Homo sapiens: one gene and its partner. The protein of the gene in region 1 purifies or fractionates together with the protein of each later gene. This does not show direct contact. Each region holds a gene or a part of one and is shown in the gene's direction. Other genes may lie near its edges.

Evidence for each region.
Region 2: the proteins of LCP2 (region 1) and HCK purify together in Homo sapiens (pull-down; one study listed by IntAct). This does not show direct contact.

The regions. Positions count from the first base shown.
Region 1 is NC_000005.10:170,252,545-170,256,374, reverse strand, and holds part of LCP2 (lymphocyte cytosolic protein 2), read left to right. Parts: intron 1-3,161; coding exon 3,162-3,256; intron 3,257-3,804; exon of another isoform or gene 3,805-3,830. UniProt on the Homo sapiens protein: Adapter protein primarily involved in signaling pathways within T-cells, as well as other immune cells such as platelets, mast cells, and natural killer (NK) cells.
Region 2 is NC_000020.11:32,097,088-32,099,974, forward strand, and holds part of HCK (tyrosine-protein kinase HCK), read left to right. Parts: intron 1-1,916; coding exon 1,917-2,048; intron 2,049-2,887. UniProt on the Homo sapiens protein: Non-receptor tyrosine-protein kinase found in hematopoietic cells that transmits signals from cell surface receptors and plays an important role in the regulation of innate immune responses, including neutrophil, monocyte, macrophage and mast cell functions, phagocytosis, cell survival and proliferation, cell adhesion and migration.

The DNA.
Region 1 (3,830 bases):
GCCAAGGGCTGTCGGAATGATAGGATAGTACCTAAAACACAACACATACACACACACGTATACATATACATGCCCATACACACATGCACATATACATGCACACACACACATGCATACACATGTACACATATATACATGTGCACACAGGTATACACATATATACACATACACAATACATGCACACACATGCACATGCATACACACATACATACATGGACACACCTACACACACTTCACCAGGAAGCCAGCCCTCATCCCCAATCTTCCTGTGCAGAACTATTCCTCCAGCTCCGGTTTCCCTACGGAATCCTCAGAATCCTGTTTGCCTTTCTCTGCAGTTTTAGATTTCCATGATCAATCTGTCCATGGTTGTGAGTTGGGGAGCATGTTCAAAATACAAACTAAGAGAACTTAACGTCACAGATTCTGATTCAGTAAGTCCGGAGTGAAGTCAGGGACCTGTGTTTTTAATAATACCACCTCTGGACGTCCATGATTAGTATTCGCTTAGAGTGTTCTGCAACTTGAAAGTGCATATAGATCACCTGGGAATTGTGTTAACATGCAGATTCTAATTCAGGAGGTCTGGGGTGAGGCCTGAGTTTCTGAATTTCTAACATATTCCATGCGATGCTGTGACTGCTGGTTCATGAACCACTTTGAAAGGCACTGGGGCAGGACTAATTTGTGCTTTTTATCCTTAAAGACTTGCAAGTGACAGGCACTTGGTAGGCACTTTAAAAATGCTTGTCGAATGAGCATCAAATGACTAGGGAAAGTTACCCAACTCTAGTAAGTAGCATTCCAGGAAACTGGCTTAGCATTGCCAGATTTTCCAATTTTTTTCTCAAGAAAAGTGAAATTATTTAATTTTTAAATGTTGACTTAAATTTTTAAAAAATGCTGTGAAGAATGACAACAGAAAAGCCACTTTTTTTGCAGTCATGTTCCACATGCAGTGTGTGCACGGGCCAGTGTGTGTTCAGTAGAAAACTATGTTAGTAAATGTGAGTTGATAGCCTGAGAATCAACATTTTTTCCAAGAACACATCTAGGGTATTCAGTTGGATGCATCATTCCATAGAGGGGCGAGATCCCACTGCTGACGCCAGTGGCACCCACTAAGTTTTCAATGTTTTCTAAGCATTTGAGGTTATGGTGGTGTCCACGTTCACCACATGGTTTTCACAGTTTCTCGCCCAACCCCTAATTTTCCACAATCCCCAAAATTCTCTGTGTTTTGCAAACACACATTTGTGTTACCTCCTTGCCTCTGTAGCCATCTGAGTCCCAGACACATCACAGCATTATTTTCCAAAGCAAGTTCCACAGATCTCCAGTTTTATGAGTCTGTGATGGGGCTTATTAATGCAAATAGTTAATTATTTTTGGAACATTAGCTTGATCCAAATTGATCTCTTTTCCCCTAAGACTGCCAGGACACCTGGTCCTCGGTCTTCTCTACTGGTTCTACTGGTTGTTCCAACATCAGAAGGATAAAGTTTGTGCTGTGCATTGCCCAAAAACCTGTCATGACTCCCTTGAGAGTCTAGATATTAAGGGTGGTAGGTGACTGCAATAAAAAAGTGTATGTGCTTCTCTGTTGTAACTTAGAACTCTATGATGCTGGCCTGCAGGTGCAGAGGCAGAAAGAGAATCATTTCTTAACTGTAGAATGGCCATGCAATGCGGGCCTTGGTTCTGTTACTCTCCTGTATTGTTAGGTTTCATTCATTCAACAAGCATTATAAAAGTGCAAGTGTTGGACTGCAAAAAAAATGGGGATGGGGAAGATCTGTCTAGGCACTGGGAACTTGGAGAAGGAAGGCACTGGCAGCTCAGGGCCAGCTTGTTTAGAAACAGGGAAGGAGCATCTTAAACAATCCTGTTGATGTGGCTCAGGAGACTTGTTTAAAAACAGGGAAGGACCATCATAAATAATCTTGATGATGCGGCTCAGGAGGCTTTAGCCCTTACAGGTGACTCTCCTCTCCTCAGTGGTGTAACAAGGTAGACGTAGTGACAATCCGTGGTGTAGAACCACCGGAAGTACTTGCTAACATGCAGATTTCTGAGCCCCAGGTGCTCGCAAGTCGCCCAGGGATTCTGACTCATGCACAGTAGCATTTGGTAACCACAGGTTTAAGTTTTGGCTTTGCCACTGATAGCGCATGATTTGCTTAGCCTCTGAGCCTGTATTTCCCCATATGCAAAATGAAGACAATACCTACCTTGTAATGTTGCTGTGAGGATTAAAAAAAATGTACACACGATACCTTACTCAAGATCTGGACAGAGTTGTGCTGAATAAATATTTGTTGAAGGTATGAATGAATGATGGTTAAATAATTAAGAGAACATTTGACTCACAGAATTTTTCTGTTTTTAACCACAGCCTGGCACATAGAAAATACCCTGGGCAACTGCAATAAACACAACTAAACCTTTCCTGAGATTAGGAAACATTCTCCTAAAGTTTCAAGGAACTGTAAATGAGAAAAAAGAGTTTTAGAGAAGATGAGGCACAAGCACTGGGTAATTAATAGTTGCCCAGTAAAAACTTCCTGATCTGTAGTGCCTTCTATGTGAGTTGAACAGTCTACCTGTTTAGTTAGAACAGCGGGTAGCCAACTTTGATTCTAAAAGCTAGCAATATTCTCAAGGTAATTTTGTCTTCTCTTGGGTCACTTACATTTCTTTTTGTGGAAACATTAAGAACATAATTATCTTCATCATTGCATTGTCCCTACATCAGCTGTTGGGAATCCATTCTGCCTATGATGATATTATAAGAATCTATGAAAAATTTGTCTCTTGAGCATTCATTTTGACGTTCACATTCATTAAAACAATTGCGAATTTTTTTATAAAGGGATCTAGTCACTTTATATTATGTAACATGCACATTTAGAAAAATCACTCAAAGTTGAGGTTCTCTTCTCAAAGTTTTACTGGCATGATTACAGAATAATGCCTGAGCAGCCCCCATGGTTTCAAACAGATGAAAATTATTTTTGAAGCCCTTGTTTCTTAAAATGCGAACTATAGGACCAATCGCAAGGGTATTTTTTTGGGGGAGTGGGGGGAATGTGTTTTGTGTTTTGATAGCAGCAAACAATAGCTTACAGTAAATTAACTGTCAGAATTCTATACTTTTGAAGGCCCTAGCAACAGACCACCTATCAGAGCCGAAGGCAGAAACTTCCCCTTGCCACTTCCAAACAAACCTCGGCCCCCATCCCCCGCGGAGGAAGAGGTAAGAGAGCATGTTTTTATTTTTGTTTGTTTGCCTTTTCCCTGGTAAAAGAATCACCAGAAACTCCCATTGAATGTTCTTCTGTACTTTTATCTTCCCTTTGTTTTATTTTATTTATTTGAAAAAAAAGTTAAAGGAGAAGATCCAGATGAACAATATGTTCTTTTCCCTTGGCGTTCTTTCAGACGCTTTCAATGGCAAACATGTGTTTTGCATTAAACAGCAAGAAAAATAATCCTGTTTTTTATGTTTATGACCTTGATTCGTCACTTAACTGCTCAATAACCCATTTTTTTAATCAAGCAGGTTATTATGCTAAACTGAAGAAATTATTGTATCTGTATCTTTCCTGAAGAGGTTCCATACTGTAAGGAACTCTTATTCACAGGCATTTTTGCAACCAGTGTCATGATAAAAAGCAGTTCGCACAAAATATCTTCTATTTAGCCCCAGCTAAATGACTCTGAATGCAAATTAAGAAAACAAATGTTTCAGACCTCCTGGAATTGAGGTGTTGATTTATGGAAATGATTACTCAGAGGCTTTTCTTTTCACTTACATCTGTAACTGTAAA
Region 2 (2,887 bases), on another chromosome or scaffold:
TGGGCAATATAGCAAGACCCCATCTCTACAAAAAATTTAAAAATAAGTCAGGCGTGGTGGTGTGAGCCTGTGGTCCCTGCTACTCAGGAGGCTGAGGCGGGAGAATCGCTTGAGCCCAGGAGGTTGAGGCTGCAGTGAGCCAAGATCATGTCACTGCACTCCAGCCTGTGTAACAGAGCAAGACTTTGTCTCAAAAAAGTAAATAAATAGGGCCGGGCACGTTGGCTCATGCCTGTAATTCCAGCACTTTGGGAGGCTGAGGTGGGAGGATCACGAGGTCAGGAGATCGAGACCATCCTGGCTAACACGGTGAAACCCCATCTCTACTAAAAATACAAAAAATTAGCCAGGCGTGGTGGCGGGCACCTGTAGTCCCAGCTACTTGGGAGACTGAGGCAGGAGAATGGCGTGAAAGCCGGGAGGCGGAACTTGCAGTGAGCTGAGATGACACCACTGCACTCCAGCCTGGGCAAACAGAGCGAGACCCTGTCTCAAAACATAAATAAATAAATAAATAAATAAATGTAATGACTAAAGGAATAAAAGTAGAATGTATAATTTCTAAACCAGAAGAAGATAAGCAGGAAATCAAGAAAAGTCTGTAGATCCAAAGGAGGAAGGGAGAAAACATATACACACACACACACTCTCACACACACAAACACACACATAGAACATTTTCAAAACTTGACCATGTACTCAGTCATAAAGCAGGTCTCAACAAATTCCAAAGAACATATATTCTATAGACCATGTTCACCAACCATGATATAATTAAACTAAACACTTTTTAAAAAAGGATAACTATGCCAGGTGCGGTGGCTCACACCTATAATCCCAGTGCTTTAGGAGGCCAAGATGGGAGGATCACTTGAGCCCAGGAGTTTTGAGAACAGGCTGGGTAACATAATAAAACACTGTCTCTACAAATTTTTCTATTTTTTTATATTTTATTTTATTTTATTTTATTTTATTTTTGAGACGGAGTCTGACTCTATCATCCAGGCTGGAGTGCAGTGGTGTGATCTCGGTTCACTGCAACCTCCATCCCCTGGGTTCAAGTGATTCTCCTGTCTCAGCCTGTAGCTGGAACTACAGGCACCTGCCACCATGCCCAGCTAATTTTGTATTTTTAGTAGAGATGGAGTTGGCCAGGCTGGTCTCGAATTCCTGACCTCAGGTGATCCTCCTCCTTGGTCTCCCAAAGTGCTGGGATTACAGGCACAAGCCACCATACCTGGCCAAAAAAATTTTTTTAATTAGCTTGGCATAATGGGGCACACCTGTAACCCCAGGGGCTTGAGAGGCTGAGGCAGGAGGATAGCTTGAGGTCAGGAGTTCGAGGCTTCAGTGAACTATGATTGTGCCACTGCGCTCCAGCCTGGGCACTCTGTCTCTAAAAGAAAAAAAAAATGAAAAGGCTAACTAAACCCATGTCAGACTAGGTGGGAGGAAGGGCGGGTAAAGGGAGAGACACATAGTGACTGGTGGGAACCTCATGGGCTGAGAGCCAGAATCCTCCCTTTTCCCATCGCCCAGGATGAGAGGACTGAGGCATCAGCTGCAACCTGGACTCAAGGCCCCCTGAAGTCCTTCTGTCCCCAAAGACCTGTGACCTCTGGGATTCCACTCTTCGGAGTTGCAGTTAACTGGGGTATCAGCTGAATCAACGAGGAGGATTCTAGAGTGAACTTCCACACCATACCCCAGGCCCCTAAGCCCACTCCTCCTTGTTTAGCCATCTGTCCTCAGGATGGATGTCCCTTGCTTCCACAGGGAGGCCACGTATCAGGGAAATTGCAGGTCTGCAGGGGCAGATGTTGGCAGCTCTTGCCCTTGCCTGTTCCCCCACCTTAGCAGAGCCAACCCTCACTACTCCCCAGCCTTCCCCGACTCTGCTCTGTTCAACCCTGCAGGGGCCAAGTTCCCCATCAAGTGGACAGCTCCTGAAGCCATCAACTTTGGCTCCTTCACCATCAAGTCAGACGTCTGGTCCTTTGGTATCCTGCTGATGGAGATCGTCACCTACGGCCGGATCCCTTACCCAGGTAGGGAAGGGGCATCAGCTCAGGGCTGCTACCAGGGCCCAGTCTGGCAATGGGCTCATCTCAACAACATGTCCATTCAAACTGAGTTCTTGATCCTCACCCCCAACCTTCCCTCACCTTTCCTGTCTTAGTTAAAGGCACCTCCATCCATCTAATGTCTTAAGCCTGAAATCTGGGGGCTTCCTTGGCCCTTCCTTCTCTCTCACTCCTATGACTTTTTTTTTTTTTTTTTTTTTTTTTGAGACGGAGTCTCCCTCTGTCACCCAGGCTGGAGTGCAGTGACGTGATCTCGGCTCACTGCAACCTCCGCCTCCCAGGTTCAAGCGATTCTCCTGCCTCAGCCTCCTGAGTAACTGGGATTACAAGCATCCACCACCATGCCTGGCTAATTTTTGTATTTTTAGTAGAGACGGGGTTTCACCATGTTGGCCAGGCTGGTCTCGAACTGCTGACCTTAGGTGATGCGCCTGCCTCGGCCTCCCAAAGTGCTGGGATTACAGGCGTGAGCCACTGTGCCTGGCCTCACCCCTATGACATCTGAGCAGTCACAGGGTTTTGGCCACTCGACTCCAAAACATATCCCAAGTCTCACCACTTTGAACCCCACAGTCTCCACTGCATCCAGGCCAGCGTCATCTCCCATAGATGGTGCAGCGGCATCCTCATCAGTCTTACTGCTTTCTCCCTCCTCGTCCTACAGCCTATTCTCCACTTGCAGCCAGAAGGATAATTCTAAACTTTAAATCAGATCTTGTCCTTTCTCCACCTTTTTTTTTTTTTTTAAGACAAGGTCTCACTCTGTCACTGAGGCTGTAGTGCAGTGGTGTAATCATAGCTCA